Homo sapiens: one gene and its partners. The protein of the gene in region 4 interacts with the protein of the main gene of each other region in a biochemical or structural test. Each region holds a gene or a part of one and is shown on either strand. Other genes may lie near its edges. The genes, in order: VASP, AP2B1, UNC5A and MAGED1.

The links.
Region 1: the proteins of MAGED1 (region 4) and VASP interact in a test that uses a peptide from one of them, tested with the Homo sapiens proteins (one large-scale study listed by BioGRID and IntAct).
Region 2: the proteins of MAGED1 (region 4) and AP2B1 interact in a surface display test, tested with the Homo sapiens proteins (one large-scale study listed by IntAct).
Region 3: the proteins of MAGED1 (region 4) and UNC5A form a complex in vitro, tested with the Homo sapiens proteins (one study listed by BioGRID).

What each region holds. Positions count from the first base shown.
Region 1 is NC_000019.10:45,516,743-45,522,609, forward strand, and holds part of VASP (vasodilator-stimulated phosphoprotein), read left to right. Parts: intron 1-920; coding exon 921-1,092; intron 1,093-1,186; coding exon 1,187-1,352; intron 1,353-4,207; exon of another isoform or gene 4,208-4,501; intron 4,502-4,579; coding exon 4,580-4,664; intron 4,665-5,425; coding exon 5,426-5,475; intron 5,476-5,597; coding exon 5,598-5,839; intron 5,840-5,867. UniProt on the Homo sapiens protein: Ena/VASP proteins are actin-associated proteins involved in a range of processes dependent on cytoskeleton remodeling and cell polarity such as axon guidance, lamellipodial and filopodial dynamics, platelet activation and cell migration.
Region 2 is NC_000017.11:35,589,093-35,594,959, reverse strand, and holds part of AP2B1 (AP-2 complex subunit beta), read right to left. Parts: intron 953-5,867; 5' UTR 930-952; coding exon 893-929; intron 1-892. UniProt on the Homo sapiens protein: Component of the adaptor protein complex 2 (AP-2). Adaptor protein complexes function in protein transport via transport vesicles in different membrane traffic pathways.
Region 3 is NC_000005.10:176,809,234-176,813,358, reverse strand, and holds the start of UNC5A (netrin receptor UNC5A precursor), read right to left. Parts: upstream 2,801-4,125; 5' UTR 2,609-2,800; coding exon 2,539-2,608; intron 1-2,538. UniProt on the Homo sapiens protein: Receptor for netrin required for axon guidance. Functions in the netrin signaling pathway and promotes neurite outgrowth in response to NTN1. Mediates axon repulsion of neuronal growth cones in the developing nervous system in response to netrin.
Region 4 is NC_000023.11:51,898,637-51,904,119, reverse strand, and holds the end of MAGED1 (melanoma-associated antigen D1), read right to left. Parts: coding exon 5,477-5,483; intron 3,939-5,476; coding exon 3,824-3,938; intron 2,568-3,823; coding exon 2,190-2,567; 3' UTR 2,182-2,189; intron 1,975-2,181; 3' UTR 1,766-1,974; downstream 1-1,765. UniProt on the Homo sapiens protein: Involved in the apoptotic response after nerve growth factor (NGF) binding in neuronal cells. Inhibits cell cycle progression, and facilitates NGFR-mediated apoptosis. May act as a regulator of the function of DLX family members.

The DNA of each region.
Region 1 (5,867 bases), on a different chromosome or scaffold from region 4:
AATCCCAGCACTTTGTGGGGCTGAGGCAAATGGATCACTTGAGCCCAGGAGTTCGAGACCAGTCTGGCCAACATGGTGAAACCTCGTCTCTACTAAAAATACAAAAAATTAGCTGGGCTTGGTGGTGCATGCCTGTGATTCCAGCTACTCAGGAGGCTGAGGCGGAGAATGGCTTGAACCTGGGAGGCAGAGGTTGCGGTGAGCCGAGGACAGCCCGGGTGACAGAGTAAGACTCTGTCTCAAAAAAAAAAAAAAAAAAAAAAAGATTAGTCGGGTGTGGTGGTGCATGCTTGTAGTCCCAGCTACTTGGGAGGCTGAAGTGGGAGGATCGCTTGAGCTCAGGAGGTCGAGGCCACATTCCAACCTGGGTGACAGAGAGCAAGACTCTGTCTCAAAAACAAAAATAAAAATAATAATAATAATTATTATTATTAGAGATGGGGTCTCACTATGTTGCCCAGGCTGCTCTGAAATGCTTGGGCTCAAGTGATCCTCCTGCCTCAACCTCCAAAGTGCTGGGATTACAGGTGTGAGACACCACGCCAAGACCATCTTTATCTCTTTCTGTGTCTGCCTCTTCCTCCAGGTCCCCTGTCTGCCCATCCTTTTTCCCCACCCCTCCCCCATCTGTTCATCTGTCTGTCTGCCTTCAGTCTGTCTCTCCTCTTTGTCAACCCGACTCTCCCTTTCCCACCTCTCTCTGCGTCTGTCTCTTGCATCTCGTTTGTGTGTTTGCCTGTCTCTCCTGATCTGATTTTCTCTCCTGATCTGTCTCCCCCGTCTCCTTCTGTCCACGTGGCTCCTGCCTCCCTCTGTGTCACTCTCTTCCTTCCACACACTGTCTTTGTCCCTTGGAATCTCCCAGGAGAGACCCAGATAAGAAGGTGACCGGCCCCTCTCCCTTTTCCTCCCGCCTGCAGCGAGACGGTCATCTGTTCCAGCCGGGCCACTGTGATGCTTTATGATGATGGCAACAAGCGATGGCTCCCTGCTGGCACGGGTCCCCAGGCCTTCAGCCGCGTCCAGATCTACCACAACCCCACGGCCAATTCCTTTCGCGTCGTGGGCCGGAAGATGCAGCCCGACCAGCAGGTGCAGCTTCCCGCCGGCCCCCTCTGTGGGCTGAACCCCTACCCGCCCCACCCCTGCGCCCGCCGCCCCTCACCCCCCTTTCCCCTCCCACCAGGTGGTCATCAACTGTGCCATCGTCCGGGGTGTCAAGTATAACCAGGCCACCCCCAACTTCCATCAGTGGCGCGACGCTCGCCAGGTCTGGGGCCTCAACTTCGGCAGCAAGGAGGATGCGGCCCAGTTTGCCGCCGGCATGGCCAGTGCCCTAGAGGCGTTGGAAGGTCAGAAATGGCGGCGGGCAAAGGGGACCAGTGAATGCGGCTGTGTGGCCTGGGGCTGCCGCTTTACCCTGCTGGGACTTGGTTTACTCGTCGGTAAAATAGAGCGAATTCATTGTTATCATGGAAAATTATCACTAGCATTTTGTGCATTCCAGTGTGACCGTGTGCACCTATGTGTAAAATGCACCATTGGCCCGGCGCCGTGGCTCATGCCTGTAATCTCAGCACTTTGGGAGGCCGAGGCACACGGATTACCTGAGGTCAGGAGTTTCACCGTGCCCAACATGGTGAAATTGCGTCTCTATTAAAATTCAAAAATTAGCTGGGCGTGGTGGTGCGCGCCTGTAATCCCAGCTATTCGGGATGCTGAGGGACGAGAAGTGTTTGAACCCAGGAGATAGAGGTTGCAGTGAGCCGAGATCAGGCCACTGCACTTCAGCCTGGCGACAGAGCAAGATTCCGTCTCAGAAAGAAAACAAACACAAAAAAAATGCACGATTACTCAGGGATCAGTACTCCATGAACTTTACACAGGCACACTCCCGGGAAACCACCTCCCAGATCAAGACATAGGTAGGTCCTGCCCCAGAAACAGGATCTCGCTCTGTTGCCCAGGCTGGTGTGCACTGGCACAATCATGGCTCTCTGCAGCCTTCACCTCCTGGGCTCAAGTGATCCTCTTGCCTCAGCCTCCTAAGTAGCTGGGAATACAGGTGTGCACCACCATACTTGGCTCTTTTTTTGTTTTGTTTTTTGAGACAGAGTCTTGCTCTGTCACCCAGGCTGGAGTGCAGTGGTGCAACCTCAGCTCACTGCAACCTCCACCTCCCGGGTTCGCGTGATTCTCGTGCCTCAGCCTCCTGAGTAGCTGGGATTACAGGCATGTGCCACCATGCCCAAGCTATTTTTTTGTATTTTGTTTTTATTTTTATTTTTTTGAGACAGAGTCTCACTCTGTTGCCCAGGCTGGAGTGCAGTGGCACGATATTGCCTCACTGCAACCTCCGCCTCCCGGGTTCAAGCGATTCTCCTGCCCTAGCCTCCCGAGTAGCTGGGACTATAGGCGTGAGCCACCACACCCGGGTAATTTTTTGTATCTTTAGTAGAGACAAGGTTTCACCGTGTTAGCCAGGATGGTCTCTATCTCCTGACCTTGTGATCCGCCCGCCTAGGCCTCCCAGAGTGCTGGGATTACAGGCATGAGACACCATGCCCGGCCCTTGTATTTTAGTAGAGAAGGGGTTTCACCATATTGGCCAGGCTGGTTTCAAACTCCTGGCCTCAAGTGATCCACCTGCCTCTGCCTCCCAAAGTGCTGGGATTATAAGTGTGAGCCACCATGTCTGGCCACCTGGATCATTTCAAATTTTTTTTTTTTTTTTACTTTTTGTGGAGATGGTCTACAGGCTGGTCTTGAACTCCTGGGCTCAAGTGATCCTCCCACTTCAGCCTCCTAAAGTGCTGGGATTACAGGCATGAGCCACTACACCCAGCCCAGTTGCTTTTTTTTTTTTTTTTTGGAGACGGAGTCTCGCTCTGTCCCCAGGTTGGAGTGCAGTGGCGCGATCTCCGCTCGCTGCAAGCTCTGCCTCCCGGGTAAATGCCATTCTCCTGCCTCAGCCTCCCGAGTAGCTGGGACTACAGGCACCCGCCACCACATCCAGCTAATTTTTTGTATTTTTAGTAGAGACGGGATTTCACCGTGTTAGCCAGGATGGTCTCGATCTCCTGACCTCGTGATCCGCCCGCCTCGGCCTCCGAAAGTGCTGGGATTACAGGCGTGAGCCACTGCGCCCGGCCTTTTTTTTTTTTTTTTTTTTTTTTTTTTAATATGGAGTCTCACTCTGTCTCTCAGGCTGGAGTGCAGTGGTGTGATCTCAGTTCACTGCAACCTCCGCCTCCTGAGTTTAAGCAATTCTGCCTCAGCCTCCTGAGTAGATGGAACTATAGGTGTGCACCAACATGCCTGTCTAATTTTTGTAGTTTTAGTAGAGACGGGGTTTCGCAGTGTTGGCCAGGCTGGTCTCGAACTCCTGACCTCAGGTGATCCACTCGCCTCGGCCTCCCAGAGTGCTGAGATTACAGGCGCGAGTCACGCGCCCAGCCCAGTTGCTATTTCTTAAACCTTAACGTGCACATGAATCACCTGGGGATCTGGTTAAAGTGCAGGCTCTGGTGCAGGTGGGCTGGGCGGACTGAGACTCCACATTCTCACAAGTGCCCTGGTGATACCCAGGCTGCTGGTCTGCGGACGTGACTGAGTAGTGAGGTTTTAGGTGACTGCCGTGCATCTGGCCTGGAATCACTGCTGTAGAACTGAAAGTCACCAAATGCAGGGGTGTTTGCTTCGTGGGACAACTTCTGTGCTAGTGCGGAAGGGGCTTGCTCCTCTGGGGCACACAGAAAAATACAGTGGGCTTCAGTTGAGTCATCTGTAAATTGGGGCTAATTCATTGTTAATTCGTAGCCAATTCAATTCAGGTGCTAGGGCCAGAGGCCTGGAGGTAGGTGAGGAAGAAGCTCTTTACCTTTCCAGGTTCTTAGGTAAGGTCCAAGTGGCTGTAACAGTGGTTAAGAGCTAGCCAGGGGCCAGGTGCGGTGGCTCACGCCTGTAATCTCAGCACTTTGGGAGGCTGAGGCAAGTGGATCACTTGAGGTCAGGAGTTCGAGACCAGCCTAGCCAACATGGTGAAATCCCATCTCTATTAAAAATACAAAAATTAGCCAGGCATGGTGGCAGGCGCCTGTAATCCCAGCTACTCAGGAGGCTGAGGCAGGAGAATCTCTTGAACCCGGGAGGTGGAGGCTGTGGTGAGCCGTGATTGCACTGCTGCACTCCAGCCTGGGTGACAGAGTGAGACTCTGTCTCGAAACAAACCAACAGTGGTTAAGAGCCTGGCTGCTGGAATCAGCCTGAATTCAAGTCTTGTTCCTGCACATTCCACCCTGGAGAAATCTGGGGCAAGTGACTGTTCCCCGGGCCTTAGCTTCTCCTGTCACTGGGACATCACAACAGCACCTACCTTAGGGCAACTCAGGCCAGGGAAGTTGGTGCTGCCTCACCTCCCAATGTGCGTCCTCCTGGGCCTGGAGCCTCAGGGCCTCTGGAAGGAGGAAGTGAGCGCCTCTGGGCAGGATTCCTGGGAGGCCTGGGAGAGCAAGGGAAGCGCCAAGAGCTGAGCAGAGTTCTGGGACTGATCCATGGCCCTTTCTCTCTCACCTTTCAGGAGGTGGGCCCCCTCCACCCCCAGCACTTCCCACCTGGTCGGTCCCGAACGGCCCCTCCCCGGAGGAGGTGGAGCAGCAGAAAAGGTGGGGCTGGGCCCTGGGTGGGGAACCTTAGCCGCTGCCAGAGTTCCATATGTTCTGGAACCCTTGACTCCTAGAGTTCAGAACCCAGCCAACTTGCAGTTTTCAGAATGTTCAAGAAACTTCTGACACTCAGAGTTGCAGAACCTCCTGGTCCCTGCAGATTCCTGGAAATCAGAATATGGTGGTTGAAAGAATCTTGTGGCTGGGCGTGGTGGCTCACGCCTGTAATCCCAGCACTCTGGGAGGCCGAGGCGGGCAGATCGCCTGAGGTCAGGAGTTTGAGACCAGCCTGGCCAACATGGCGAAATCCCGTCTCTACTGAAGATAACAAAAATTAGCCGGTCATGGTGGCGCCCGTGCCTGTAATCCCAGCTCGGCAGGCCGAGGCAGGAGAATCGCTTGAACCCGGGAGGCAGAGGTTGCAGTGAGCCAAGATCGAGCCACTGCACTCCAGCCTGGGTGACAGAGTCTCAAAAAAAAAAAAAGAAAAGAAAGAATCTTGGGCATTTTGTAATTCGGTGTTCCTGACAGTTTAGTGACTGGGATCTCGCATCCTGATCTCTCCCTGTCGCTGCCCTGCCCTCCATTCCCCCTACTCTCACCCAGCCCCCTTCTTGGTTCCCTAGGGGAGGAAGGCTTGGGTGAGTATTAGGAGCCAGCCACCCTGGAGACCTCTGAGAGAGAGGACGGAGGTCGCTGGCCCCTTCGCTGGCCATCCTTAGGGCCCTGATTGACGGCAGCTCTCTCGCCTCCCCCCACAGGCAGCAGCCCGGCCCGTCGGAGCACATAGAGCGCCGGGTCTCCAATGCAGGTGATGCTCAGATAGCTTCGGGAGTTGGGAGGGGGCCTCCCTGGAGGAAGTGGCCAGCCAGCTGGACAGTGAAGAATGAGGCTTCTCTCTCTCAGCTGCCCCCTTTTCTGTGTTTGTTTCAGGAGGCCCACCTGCTCCCCCCGCTGGGGGTCCACCCCCACCACCAGGACCTCCCCCTCCTCCAGGTCCCCCCCCACCCCCAGGTTTGCCCCCTTCGGGGGTCCCAGCTGCAGCGCACGGAGCAGGGGGAGGACCACCCCCTGCACCCCCTCTCCCGGCAGCACAGGGCCCTGGTGGTGGGGGAGCTGGGGCCCCAGGCCTGGCCGCAGCTATTGCTGGAGCCAAACTCAGGAAAGTCAGCAAGGTGAGGGGCCGGGAGAGGTGGGCAGGGG
Region 2 (5,867 bases), on a different chromosome or scaffold from region 4:
GGCACAATAAGCTGAGATGGGCTAAAATGTTTGTCTTTGATGGGAAGACCCTCCACATTTCTAGAAATGATCTATTTTATTTAGGAACAATTTTACAAAAGATGAAGGGTTGGACTTTCCCCAGAAGAATCCTTTGTTCCTAGACCCAAACTCATAGGTAAAAACAAGCATTATATTACTGATAACAAAGATGATGAGAGTAATAAGTGCAAAGTCCCTCAAGTAATTCCGTCTATGACCTAAAAACCATAGATGGCTCTAGAGATTCCGTTTTAAATATACATCTAGACGAAGAACATGGTAGATGTATATGGACGGATATGAAAATAACTCATTTCTATTCATTGTTTTGCAAGATTGCTTTTTCATTAAAGATAAAAAAATTTTAAATCATATGTATTAATATATGCACTCATATGCAGAGAAAAAGACTTGAGGATATACACCAAGTTCCCTTGGGAATAGGAACAGGAAGGGAGAACTTTCATTTTTACCTTTTACATACATATCTGTATTGCTTTAATTGTATTCTTTGTTATAAAATGTTTATTTCCAAGTAAAAATTATTTAATAAAAGGGAAAAAGTATGCTGCTTCTTTTGTCCTCCTCACACTTAACCAATCTCCAATGGATCATCTCAAACAGCAAAGAGGAGTCTCTTTCACTAAACAGAACCTTCAAGTCATAATAATGTGCATCACAGCCCTCTCTTTTAAAACCTACTCTTTAATAACTTGCTTGAATACATTCATCTATAGAAGTAGTAGATGTCCAGTGAGATTGTCAGCTACATGTATGTCTGAAGGAAGAGGTCAGCAGCATTCTGCCTGGGGCAATCTTACACTACAACTTTTGAAAATTTCAAAAGATTTGATTGTATTCTCATACTTACCTTTTTTATTGGTTGTGAAATACTTGGAGTCAGTCATGACTTTGGATCTTTAATGTGCACCTATAGCAAGAGAAAAGAATTCCTTCATTCAGGTTATAGATATCCAACAAGGCATCCAATTAATTTTAAGAACATCCAATTAATTTTAGGAACACTTATATTTAAGAATTTCTAAAAATGAGTATCATCTTCCTTTATCACCACCGTTGATGGTTCAAGAAAAACTAAGAATGTAACTCCTCAAGCTAATGGGGCAAAAATCTAAAGGCCAAATGCAACTGGGTAAAAGTATGAACCTATTATGGCTTTGTGATTTTATCCACAGTAACTCCTCAAAGCTTTCAAGAGCTAAAGCTGGACCTTTTTATAAATATATCTGCAATTACTTTCCATTCAGGAAAATCTGGTAACTTCCTTGCCTCAAGCTGGAATCACTCCAAAACATATATTCTGAAGCAGTGTAAGGTCAAAAGAAAAAACAATTTTGCCGATCTATGACATGAAACTTTCAATAAAAAGAATCTCTTTCAGAAAAAAAAAATTCAAAATTAGTAGGACAATATTCTTTCACAACAAACATCTAGAGAGGCAACCATGACTTATGCATGGAATTTTTTTAATTTTTAGTTTTGTGGGTATTTAGTAGGTGCGTATAGGTACATGAGATATTTTGATAACAGGCAGACAATGCATAATAATTACATTAGTGTAAATGGGATATCCATCACCTCAAGCATTTATCCTTTCTTTGTATTATAAACAATTCAATTACATTCTTTTAGTTATTTTTAAATGTACAGTAAATTATTGTTGACCGCAGTCACCCTTTTGTGCTATCAAATACTAGATCTTATTCATTGTATCTAACTATATTTTTGGATTTAAAAAAAAATGTGGCTTTCTTACTTCCAACAATCCAGATTTAGCCCAAGAGTATTCCCAAATAATGCCAGTTTATAGTTAAAAACAAGGCAAAAGACTGAGACATCCGTTCAGACACGAGAATCAAACTGGTGTTGAAACAAAAGAACGTGGATCTCAACCTCAACCTTAACTCTTCCATCCCAATTTCCAGAAGAAGTAATCCAGATGACAAATGGCTCTACTAACAAAAACGGCACAGTCTGGTCACATTTTTACTAAATAATAAGACTACTTTTTCTGATTTGAGAAACTATAAGACTTTGTCCAATGTACCAGACTTCTTTAAATATATTAAAATTTTGGGGCCAGGCACAGTAGCTCACGCCTGTAATCCCAGCACTTTGTGAGGCTGCCGGGTGGATCACTTGAGGTCAGGAGTTCAAGACCAGCCTCGCCAACATGGTGAAATCCTGTCTCTGCTAAAAATACAAAATTTAGCTGGGCATGGTGGCACGTGCCTTTAATCCCAGCTACTTGGGAGGCTGAGGCAGGAGAATCGCTTGGACCTGGGAGGCGGAAGCTGCAGTAAGCCGAGATCACGCCACTGCACTCCAGCCTGGGCAACAGAGCAAAAGTCCATCTCAAATAAATAAATAAATAAATAGGAATTTGGGCCAGGCGCGGTGGCTCAGGCATGGTGGCATGTACCTGTAGTCTCAGCTACTTGGGAGGCTGAGGTGTGTGGATCGCTTGAGCTTAGGAGATCAAGGCTACAGGGAGCTATGATCTCACCACTGCACTCCAGCCTCAGCGACAGAGACCTTGTCTCAAGGGGAAAAAAATATATAAATATACATATATTTTTTAATAATATTCCTTCTGTACTCAAAATGAGTATCTTTTTCCTTATCACCATCACTAATAATACTTATCACCAACTTCAGGACAAGACATGCTGGCACCTGCTCATTATTATCAGGTCAATATGACATAATGTATTTGGCAAACAATAGTAAATATGGATCTAGGAGAAAAGACCTAAGCACCAAACAAATCAATGTAATTAAAGAAAAGAAAAAAGAGCCAGATAAACATAAAATAATGAAAAACTTCTGGTTCAAATCTGATCTCTAAAACGTGCTACTTGTACAGTTTAATGGAAATTAGACTCATTTGCTATCTTTCCAACCAGCTAATTACTATTTATAGTCTTGATCCTAATAGCTCTTTAGATTGTACCAGAAATTCACAGAATGATCTTGTTAAAAGAAGTGAGCTAGGACTCACAAATATCATTACAGAATATAGAAATTTCTCCTTTAATACTTGTTATAATTAAAAATTATACTGAAGCTTGCCTTATGCAATGTTTTTACAATGTGTTTCTAGCAAAAATTCAAAGAATGTTATAATCATTTAGTCCATTCATAATGTAAACTAAATGTGAAGTGGGCAAATGAAGAAAGGAATTCTTCACATAAAAGACCTGGAATAAATCTGAAGTTATTTATGAATGTATATATACAAACAGAAAAACCAGTAAACAGAAACGATTACTTGAGCCTCAAAGAAGGACTATAGCTCAAATCCATTACAATCTGTCTAGGATATTTACTATGCTATGCTATGTCCTTTAAAACTTGTTTAAGATTTTAAAACAAAACCTCCTTAGAATTTGTCACCCAATTTCTCTGAAAAGCCTCTTATACATACACATATTAAATTTTTTTTGGCCAGGCACGGTGGCTCACGCCTGTAATCCCAACACTTTGGGAGGACGAGGCGTGCGGATGGCTTGAGCTCAGGAGATCGAGACCAGTCTGGGGAACGTGGCGAAACTCCGTCTCTAATAAAAATACAAAAATTAGCCGGGCATGGTAGCACATGCCTGTAGTCCCAGCTGGGACTCACTGCAACATCTGCCTTCTGGGCTCAAGCAATCCTCCTGCCTCAGCCTCCCGAGTAGCTGGGACTACATGTTGGGATCACCGTGCCCAGCCCATTAAATTCTTTTTTTTTTTTTTTTTTTTTTGAGACAAAATCTCACTGTGGCCCAGGCTCCAGTGCAGTGGTTCAATTTGGGCTCACTCCAACCTTTGCCTCCCAGGTTCAAGTGATTCTCCTGCCTTAGCCTTCAGAGTAGCTGGGACTACAGGCACCCACTACCACGCCCAGCTAATTTTTGTATTTTAGTAGAGACAGGGTTTTTCCTTGTTAGCCAGGCTGGTCTGGAACTCCTGACATCAAGTTATCCATCCACCTCGGCCTCCCAAAGTGCTGGGATTACAGGCATGAGTAAATTCTTAACAGGCATTTTCACTACATTCTATTAAACAATAAATTAACCTAAGTCTTAAGTCATACCTTTATCAGTAGCTCACATATTTCATTATCTCCCCTAACAATTTCAATGTCAAGGAATATATTACTATCCTGTTCACTGTGAGCATTAAGTGTTCTTGTCTTAACTAGAAAATAATGCACCCACCCACAAAATTTCAGGGAAGAGAGGAGGGTCAAGTATCTTTAGAAGCCTATAAGATAGATTCTAAATTAAGAGTCCCTGCTGCTCTAAAGAGAAGGGATATCACTCTAGTAACCATATTGTAAACAATAGTAACAAAATATTCCCTAACCATATTGGCAGAGAAACATGGTGCCAAGCTGGTTCTTGCCTTAAGCCAAAAGAAACTCCAAGAAAAATGAAAATAGTGTAAATAAAAACAAATCAGAAGACATGATTGTTGCACAACACTGTCAGTGTACTAAATGCCACTGAACTGTATGCCTTAACCTGGTTAATTTTATGGTACGTGAATTTCACCTCAAAAAAAAATCACATATATATATGATTCAGTGTATCTCTCATATAATGAGTTCTCACCTCATATAATGAGAGATACACTTAATCACATGCTAGATATGGACATAGCCAGAGTCTCCAAAATACAGGATGGCAAAAACTGACGTCTTCATTAGAAGTTACAGCCGGTCGCGGTGGCTCACGCCTGTAATCCCAGCACTTTGGGAGGCGGGCGGATCACAAGGTCAGGAGATCGAGACCATCCTGGCTAACACGGTGAAACCCTGTCTCTACTAAAAATACAAAAAATTAGCCAGGCGTGTGGCGGGCGCCTGTAGTCCCAGCTACTCGGGAAGCTGAGACAGGAGAATGGTGTGAACCCAGGAGGCAGAGCTTGCAGTGAGCCGAGATCGCGCCACTGCACTCCAGCCTGGGCGAAAGAGTGAGACTCCGTCTCAAAAAAAAAAAAAAAAAAAGAAGTTACAGAAAAAGTAAACAAAATAGAGCTAAAGAAAAAAAAAATCTAATATTTGCTGAAGTGCCTCAAAAATCAAGCTGCTCCTATGGGGGGAGAAAATGTTCCTTCAGAAGAGCCAGAGAAATAAGCAAAGCCATGATGGAATTTGAACTCACACTACCTTTCTACCAGATCAAACCAGACAAGTAACGGCTGTTCTGAGGATTTACGGTATGGCCTAAGGCCACTGTTAAACAACAAAGCTGCCAGAGTCAAAGCACATAATCACTCTTACTTGCCCTCGACCAGAGTGTGATGTCACTGCATTTCGGAGAAGGCCTCCCTGCACAGGACTATATATCCAGATTTAACATAACCTAGTTTCTACCAAATATAGGTTGTCAAAGTCCCTCCTCTCCTATATCTCCCTCCAGTTCCCCAAAAGAGAAACTGAGCAGCAAAATAAGATTAATACCTTGGGTAGAATAAGGTCAGAAAAAAATTAATAGGGTCTTAATTCAAATGGCTCTCTGGGAAGCTAAATTAGTTTGTAAAGTCACTAAACCCTTCTTTTCACAAAGTGGGACTTTACAAAGCTCAGTGCTCATAGTGAAAAACTGGCCAAAGTTAACCAAATTATAAAGCAGAAATGTCATTCCAGTAATCTTTTATTATAAAGGTGAGAGGTGCCAAATTCATTTCTAATCAAATATTCAGTAATAATGCAAAGACAATAGCATCATCAGGTATTACCTTGCTCATAAGAAATTATGAGACACAAAAGCTAAAATCACCTGTGATTTCTATTTAAACATAACAGACTACAAAGTAGCTTCTTAATATTATAACGA
Region 3 (4,125 bases), on a different chromosome or scaffold from region 4:
CAGGCTAGATGGTTGGGGTCAGGTTGGGCAATGCAGCAATGCCAGAGCATGGCACCCCTCAGCCCCATCTTCAAGGGAGCCAGCTCCCAAGTCCCTCCTGCTCAAGACTGCAGAGGTCTGGGTGACAGGGAGACCACAGGGGCAGGGTGGGGGTTTGCATGCCAGCTGCGTGACGGGGTTTGAGAGGGAAAATCCTGTGAGACAGATGGGTGCTTGCGTGCGCGGGCACAGAGAGGGCCTGCAGGTGCGAGCATGCTGAAGGGACAGGCTTTTGTGTGATGTCCAGCAACAGAGGGTGGGCGCGTGGCCTGGGGAGCAAGCGGCTGCAGTCAGTCGCGCTGGCCCCCGGCGCCCCCTGCTGCCCGCTGGCCATCCCTCCCTCAGCGGCTCACAGACACATTTTTCACCGGAGGCTGTTGCAACGGAGGCAAAAGGCAGCGCGGGAGGAGCCCGGGTCACGGCAGGGCCAGCCTGCCTGGGCGTCCACATGTGCCCAGTGCCTGTGGGGCACAGGGGGAAGGGAGTCCCAAAGAAGTAGGGCCAGCCCCTCCCCACCCCATGGCCTTCAGCAGCTCCTCCCGCAGGCCCAGGGGCAGAGTTGATGCCTTGGGGCAGGCTCTGCGTCAGCCCCTGCAGCACCTGTGCCCACCTGCCGACTCCCTGGGCAACCTTGGGCCAGGCCTCAACAGATGCCCTGCCAACCAGGGATGCAGTTTCCCCACCCCCACAGCCTCCTGAGGAGTCCCTGTGGCAACCCCCCGCTCCAGGCCGCAGCACCCTGCTTCACCGGTACCTGTGCCCCCTTATCTGTACACGCTCACCTGTGCAACTGCACACAGCCGTCACACACGTGCGGCATGCTGGTCATCACACACGTTCATCAGGGCACACACATGCCAATGCTGCACACACCATGCCAACCCCCCTGGTTACCCGGGCACACATGTCAACCCACAGCCTTCACACGTGCTCACGTGGGCGACATGCAGCTATGACCACACAGCCCTCAAAAGCATCAACTCAGAAAACATTTCCAGGGTACCTACTGGGTGTCAGGCAACACCCCACCTGTGTGTGGGGCACTAATATCCCCACCTCATCATGGACAACAGTGCAACCTGCACCCGGGTGCTCATCTGCGGAGCTGCACACACGCCCCTAACACACACATGTGGCGGACACGGACACACACCCAACAGCAGTTCAGCCTCTCAGCTTGGTCAGGATTAGAAGGAGAGGCCCTGGGGAAGAAGAGGGGTGCTGATGGAGAAGGGAGATAGAAGGGGTGGGATGGAGTAGAGAGGGGTACTGAGGAGGCAGGATGGGGCGGGCGGTCAGGCAGTGGTGGGTGCAGGATGCGCTGCGCAGAGACACCCTTTAAGGAAACAGCCATCGGCCTCAATCATCAGGCTGGCTCCTGAGCTCCCACTCATTGATCTCTGATCAATCTGGTTTGGCAGCTCAGAAACCCCAGTGCTCCCTTCCAACACCCCTGTTATAAGCAGCGGCCTGGCCAGGCTGGGGAGTAACCGCCCAGGTTCTAGGGGCAGCAAGAATCGAGAATTGCCAGGGTAAGCCTCAAGCCCCCTTGACCACACAAATGGCACCCACCCCCCACCACCACAGACACATACGCTCAACTCAGCTAAGTGCATGGGGGGCAGAGATCAGGAGGCCCCCACAGCTCAGCCTAGGTGAAGGCTCAGGGACAGCAGACAAAGGATGCAGGGGAACTTCCTCCCCCCAAGCCCCTCCCAAGGGAATGAGGTGGGCTGAGGGCTGAGTTAGCAGTGGGTTAGGGTGACCAATGGGGCATGCAGGGGCCAAGAAAGGCTATGGAGTTTAAGGAAGAAGGGGAAACTGGCGGACCAACCACACACAACTCTGGCCCCCCGCACCAGGGAGGCCAGGAGCCACAGCCCCGGCCACCGGGACCGCGGCGCTTTGACTGTGCTGGCTGCAAGGACTGGGGGCTGGTGTATGCGCCTCCACGCCTGAGTGTGTGCGTGTGAGAGCGTGTGTGGCGGGGACAGAGGAGGACACTGTGTTCTGGACGTGGGCAGAGGCCAGGTGCCAAGCTGGGAGATTGTGAGTGGCTGTTTAGGGCAGATGCTACCGGGAAGAGGTATCTTAAACGTTCCCCGCACCCCCCATTTCCTGGGCACTGGGATAGGCTCAAAACCCTCTAATCTTCGAATCCTCAAAGTCAGGCTCCCTGGGGTTGATCCAAACCCCCAGCCCTGCTCCGGGCCCAGGCAACCAGCAAACTTCCCCCACCCGGAGGCGTGGGGTGTCTACACTCGCCAGCCCCGCGGGCTGACAGCTGCTCCTGGACTTGGCAGAACCCAGGCTTCCGGGAGAGCGCGCGGGGAAGCTGCGCAGCAGCAAGAAGAGCCCCCCGCGTCCCGCCTCGCAAAGTTTGGCCTCGGGGGGCTCCCAGCCGGGTCTGGCAGCGCTGGTCAGGGACCCCCAGAGCAGCGAGCGTTCGCGCGCACGGTCCCCCGCAAGCCTCCCCAGAGCGCGCGCGGCGTGACTCACCCGAGCCGCGGAGCCAAGCGGCGAGGACTATGCCCAGGAGCGCTGGCCACAGGCCGGGCCGGACGGCCATGGCCGCGGGCGGGCAGGCGGGCGGGCCGGGCGCGGGGCCCCGCGGGCGGGAGGGCGGCTTTAGCGCCTCAGCCCGGAGCCCCAGCTCGGGGCGCCCCCGGGGCCCATGCCAGCGGACTGCGCTGCCTCCGGGCGGCCGGCTGCCGGGCGCACGCGGCGCGTGGCTCCCTTGGGCACGGGAGCGCAGCAATGCAGCCGGGGCGGAGCGCAGCGCCAGCCGCGCCGCGCACCGAGCCAGCCGCGCCGCGGAGCCCGCAGCCGGAGAGCGGGCCGGTGGGCGCCGCAAAACCCGGACTGGAGCGACGGAGCGGGGCGGCGGCTGGGAGGGGCGGGGGAAGGAAGGAGGGGCCGGGCCGCCCCGCGCAGCGCGCGCGGGCCACCCCCAGCACCGGGAATCCCTCTGGGCGATGCCTGAGGCTCCCCCAGGGAGGGGCTTGGGGTGGTGGGCGTGGAGGCCTCCCACCGCCCCGCGGGGTCTCCAGGGACAGGGGCAGGAGTCTGAAACCCGGAGTGGATCGGTGCTCCGGATCCGGGCTCTCGCGGGCCCGCCAGTCTGCGCACAGGTGGCCCGGGAGGGGCCCGGGGCTGCGGCGACCCCGGCGCGGCGCCAGCCTGCGGAGAGCCGCCCAGGGCAGGGGTGCCCCGGGCAGGTTCCGCTGCAGTCCTCTCCCCCGCCCTTTCCTCGCGGCCGCGCTCCGGGGTCGTCCGGGCGCCGCGGTACGCTGCCAGCCCGCGGCTTGGTTAGGGGACTGCGGGAGAGCCCCGGGGCCCTGGCCCGCGCGCAGAGGTGCCCTGGCCACCAGAGCTGGCAGGCCAGACTCGGGGACACCCGCAGTCCCAGCCTCGCAGGCTGGTGGATTCCAGGGGCGCGCCTCACACCATGACCCAAGGTTTCCCTAACCCCTCGGCGCCGTTCGCCGAAGGAAAACAACCTTCAGGCGCAGCACACCCGACTGGGCGCGCGGTGTTTGAGCCCCGAGAGCGCACGGCGCCCGCGACGTGGGTGTAAAGGAACGAGCTGGGCTTTGGCAGCTAGGGAGACCGGGGGTAGGGTCCAGGCGACTTCACCTTCCAGCTCTGTGACCTTGGTCAAGTCACGTCGTCTCCTGGAGCCTCCAGCAGTGACCGCTGCTGGAGTCTCCTGTGCCCCACCCCCATTCCCTAATCGGGTTAAAATAAACAGAGGGCTGCCTTGAAGGAGAAAGGAAATGACAGCCGCGTGCGGTGTGCCTGGGGGGAGTGATCGGAAAAAGAGAGGGTCCTAGTCTGGGTCGGGAGGGGAATGAGCAGGGTGAGGGCAGGGTCGCAAACTCAAACGCCTACGGGGCCGGTCGATAATATAAATTGGCGCTGCAGGCTAGGCGATGTAAGGGATGGTCTTGCTTCCACAAAGAGATATGAGCTCTCCTATATTTCTTGAGACACGAGGCCCTCTCTCGGTCTGTCTTTTGTTTCCCACTTTTGATAGAGAAGGGTTATGAAAAATGTTTTGCTTTCCTCTTAAGTCTACTATAAAAA
Region 4 (5,483 bases):
TCATCTCCATCCCCATTTACAAATGAGCAACTAAAGCTCAGAGAACTAAGACTGTTAGGGGCAGAGGTGACAGGATGCCCTGTTGGCTGCCTCTTAGGCCTGGTGTCTTCCCCACACATCACACAGCTGTCTAAATTCCCCAGGCAAGTCATGATCTGTACACAGTATGAAGCTGGGAGTGTGGGTGGTGATGGGAGGGAGGTGATACCCCATGGAAGACCTGTGCCTACCTTGGGGACTTATGGAAAGATGGATTGTTCTTTTCCAAGGCTGCAAGGTGGAGTCCGTCCACCTGAATGTGGAGGCCGTGAACACACACCGGGAGAAGCCTGAGGTAGGTGGGGGACTCCATTACCCAAGCTGGCTGTGGACACAGCACATGGTGGAAGCACCTTCTCCACAGAAAGACTGCCCCAACCCCACCGAGCCTGGGTGTTTTGCACCAAAAGGTGGAAAAAACAGCACCCAGAAATGCAGGAACTACAGCCCAGACCTGAGGCATCATGGAGATGCAGGGCTGGTGCAATCCCTGCCAAAAAGGCCTCAGGCTGAGATTTCCTCCAGGCCTACCTGAGGGTCAGGATCCAGGCCTGGCTGAAAGAGGGGAGCCTGGCAATGAGGACAACAGGCAGGGGAGGCGTTGGGGCCCTGCACTGCTGTCTCCTTCCTATTAATCCTGGGCTCTCTCCTCAGAATGTGGACATCACTCAGGAACCTAAGGAAGCTGTGGACACCATCCCTACCCACTACCAAACCCTTCCCAGGAGGCCAAATTGCCTTTGCTCTTTTTTGTGCCCCAGGAGCTCCCGTCTCTGCCCTTGTCCACATGTCCAGATACCACCAAGCACCCAAGGAAGTCATGGCCTAGGCCTAATTTTGTCCTCAGTGGGAGAGCCTTGCTTCCAGCATAGAACTCAGCAGCTCAAGCCAAGTTCCTGCTCACAGTCACAGTCAAAGCCTGTGCATGGAGCTTTGTCTTACTTTGTAATTCTTGTTCTTGAGGTAACAAAGTCTTCTCTTTCTCCCTGCAGGAGAGAAGAGGCCATTGTGAGGCCTCCTTCACTGCCCATAAGATCCTGTCTCGAGGAGGCAGCCCCGGTCCTGTGCAAGTGGGAAGATTGTGAGGGCCTCCTAGAGGGACAGGATCCTGGGCAGCATTTCCAGAGATGGGGAGGAGTGCCTGTGAGCCCATCCCTTTATGAGCAATGTGGCTAGGGGTATATCTTCCTTCTCACAGAGGAGACTCTGGCATCTAACTCATAGTGTTCTCTACTCCTACTCCTGCTGCCCTCCTGGAGTTCTTTCACTTTCCACATGGGTTGTATAACCAACACCCTAGAATCACAGGCCATGGACCCCTTATCTCCAGAATAGTCACCTTCTGTCCCCTTCAACTACCTACTCTCTGGACCTTATCATCACCTGGAGCTCCACCTCCTCTGTGTTCTTAAGTGCAACTGTCTGAGCACCAATACCCTCTCTCACTATGCGACTTCTCGCAATGTCACTCCAAGACACCTAGCAGCATATCTATCACATGAGAGTCACTTAAGTGATATTTATTGAATAAACTATACTAGTTCTTGGGTCTCGTGTTCATTGATCCTGCCTTTGTATCCCAATCCAGTAGCTAGATCTTCCCACATTTCCACCTGCTGAAAGCTGATCTACCCTTCAAACTACAGCTGAGGTCCTGTCTCTCCCACATAAACATGTTGCTCGCTCCCCAAATATAGGGAAAAAAAGAAGCAGAGAGCACATCTAATTCACTTTGCAATTTCAATGTTTATTTCTGATACCAAAACTTGACAGCACACAAGGGGAAAAAAAGCAGTAGACAAGGAACAGCAAATAAATTTATCTTGCATGCCACTTTCAGTCAACAGGATGTGGCTCTCTAGATAGCTGTGTTTAGAAGGAATCTGAGGCTTCAGCCTCACACAGGGGAAAGACTACTGCGATTGATAGCAATATCTGTGAACATAAGAAAGAAGAAGTAAAAAAATCAATGATATATATCAAATAATAAGGAATATACATACCAAAGAGTGCTGCCCCATACTTTCCTCATCTCCCTACAATGAGTTTCCTAATACTTCTAGCTCATGCACATAAATACAACCCCATGGACCCTATATCCCCCAGAGACCCTAACTGCCCAATCCAAAGTGATGTACCTACCCAACATCTCACTCAACCCAGAAGAAACCAATGGCACCAAAGTTGGCAGCGAAGTTGGCACTGGCTGTACCACCAGGACCAATAATGGGACCGGCAAAGGTCTGAGGGAATCTGGAGCGGGCATTCTGGTGGTATCTGGCCCAGAAGGTAAATGGAATTCTGGACCAGGGATCTCCAAAATCTCCTTCCTCATCCCAGGTCAGCAGCTCAAACTCAATGTCATCCCAGCTCCAGGGCCCAGACACAGCCTCATCTCCAATTCCCATGCGGGTTCTTGCTTCAGCCCGGGCTTCGGCCTCAGCTGCAGCAGCATCCAGAGCATCCAAGGCCTCATCTGCAGCCTCCATGAACTGTGCAGTCCAGTCACGAGGGTCTCTTTTCTGAACCTGAGATGAGGAATAGAAAACAAAACAAAATCCATTTACAATAGCCAAGATATGGAATCAACCTACCTGTCCATCAGTGGATGAATGGATAAGGACAATGTGATACACACACACACAATGGAATACTATTCAGCCTTTAAAAAGAAGGAAATTCTGCCATTTGCAACAACATAGATGATGCTGGATGACATTATGCTAAGTGAAATAAGCCAGACACAGAAAGACAAATACTGCATGACCTCACTTATACATGGAATCTAAAAACGTCTAACTCATAGAAGCAGAGAGTAGAATGGTAGTTTCCAGGGCCTGGGGTCAGGAGGGATAGGGAGATATCGGTTAAAAGGTACAAAGTTTCATTTAGATAGGAAGAATATGTTCTGGAGATCAACCGTATAGCATGACGACTATAGTTAATAATAATGTGTCGTTTATTTAAAATTGCTAAAAGAGTACATTTTAAATGTTCTCATCACAAAAAAAATGTCAAGTATATGAGGCTATGGAGAGTTAACTAGCTTGATGTAATCATTCTGCAATGTACATGTATTATCAAAACATCATACTGTACCCCATAAATATGTATATTTTTTATTAGTCAGTTAAAAATAAATGAATGGGCCGGGTACGGTGGCTCACGCCTGTAATCCCAACACTTTGGGAGGCTGAGGCAGGCAGATCACTTGAGGTCAGGAGTTTGAGACCAGCCTGGCTAACATGGCAAAACCCTGTCTCTAATAGAAAAATAAAAATTTAGCCAGGCATGGTGGTGGCACGTGCCTGTAATCCCAGATACTTGGGAGGCTGAGGCACAAGAATCGCTTTAACCTGGGAGGCAGAGGTTGCAGTGAGCCAAGATTGCGCCACTGCACTCTAGCCTGGGCAACACAGCAAAACTCCATCTCGGGAGAAAACAAATAAATAAATAAATAAAACAAAATACTTAAAAATTACATTGTACACCACAAATATATACAATTTTTGTCAATTATAATTTAGTAAAGTTGGGAAAAAATAAAAATACTTTAAAAACCTAAAAAAAAACCCAAAACAAACTCATAATTGTATTAGCTAATATATTAACATATGTTAGCACCTAATACATGTTAAGTTTACCTAACAGCAACAACAAATACCACCAGCAATGCGGCACCTACCACCTGCCACACCTAGGATCTCATTCCTACCCTGGGCCTTTCCCAGCCAGCTATACTTCATCCCTTGACCTATCAATGCTGGAACAGTTCCTCCATTACCTCTGCAATGAATCTCAGCACTTTCATCTTGCTAGTCTCATGGTAGGAACGGAGGCCCCAGAGGAACTCATACTCCGGGGGGTTGCTGTTGGGCACTCGTCTGTAGTCCAGGTATCTGAAAGAGCAAAACAGTCTTTGTGTCTACCTACCCAGGCAGAATGGTAGTCCACTAATGAAAAATAATCTTACATTTTTTAACAGATTTCAGATAGCAACTCCCCCTTGGGCTCATTCCTGAACACCATCAGGGTATTTACCCCTTAATCATCAAGCCTTAAATTCCTGCACTAGAACGCTAAGCACTCACTAGAGATGCAGGCGAGGCTTGTATAGGGTCACAGAAAGGACAACATTTCCTTTCACTCCTTCTGCCTCAGCTCTAGCTCCAGATTCTTGTAATCTTGTCAGTGAGCCACAGAGGTCCATTGAAATGAGTACAATGCAGTGCAAAAGTGTCAGCCTGGCCCAGCCTTGGGAATGTCTACTGTGGGGATGGTGGATGGGCTTCACTTGCAAGACAACTGCTTAGAAAAGTAGAAAAATTAGAAAAATTCTGGCCGGGTGTGGTGGCTCACACCTGTAATCCCAGCACTTTGGGAGGCAGAGGTGGGTGGATTGCTTCAGGTCAGGAGTTTGAGACCAGCCTGGCCAACGTGGTGAAGCCCCATCTCTACTAAAAATACAAAAACAGCCGGGCACGGTGGCACGCACCTGAAGTTCCAGTTACTCGGGAGGCTGAGGCACAAGAATTGCTTGAACCTGGGAGGTGGAAGTTCAAGCGAGCCAAGATTGCACCACTGCACTCCAGCATGGGCAACAGAGTGAGACTCAGTCTCGAAAAAAACAAACAAAAGAATTCGCCCGGTACGGTCGCTCACGCCTGTAATCTCAGCACTTCTGGAGGCCAAGGCAGGCAGATCACCTGAAGTCGGGAGTTTGAGACCAGCCTAACATGGAGAAACACCGTCTCTACTAAGAAGACAAAATTAGGTGGGCGTGGTGGCACATGCCTGTAATCCCAGCTACTCAAGAGGCTGAGGCAGGAGAATAGCTTGAACCCAGGAGGCAGAGGTTGCGGTGAGCCGAGATCACGCCATTGCACTCCAGCCTGGGCAACAAGAGCGAAACTCCGTCTCAAAAAATAAAAAAATAAAAAATAAAGAATTTAACCATGAGGAGTATATGCAATAAATACTCCTGAGGACATAAGTGTTTCTGTATGCACAGAAACACATATGCACAAGTATAGTGTAAGAAACGAGCTTGAGAAGGGCTTTCTTTTATTTTTTTTGAGACAGGGTCTCACTCTGTTGCCCAGGTTGGAGTGCAGTGGCATGATCACAGCTCACTGCAGCCTCAACTTCCTGGGCTCAGATGATTCTCCCCTACCTCAGCCTCCCAAGTAGCTGGGACTACAGGTGCATGTCACCACGCCTGGCTAATTTTTGTATTTTTTTGTAGAGATGGGGTTTCGTTATGTTGCCCAGGCTGGTCTTGAACTCCTGGGCTCAAGCGATCTGCCCACCTGAGCCTCCCAAAGTACTGGGATTACAGGCATGAGCCATTGTATCCAGCCAGGAAGGGCTTTCTAAAGCTGACCAGCACACAGGCAGAATCATAAGAAGCAGGAAAAGCCCCTTAGGCATCACTTACTTCTGCT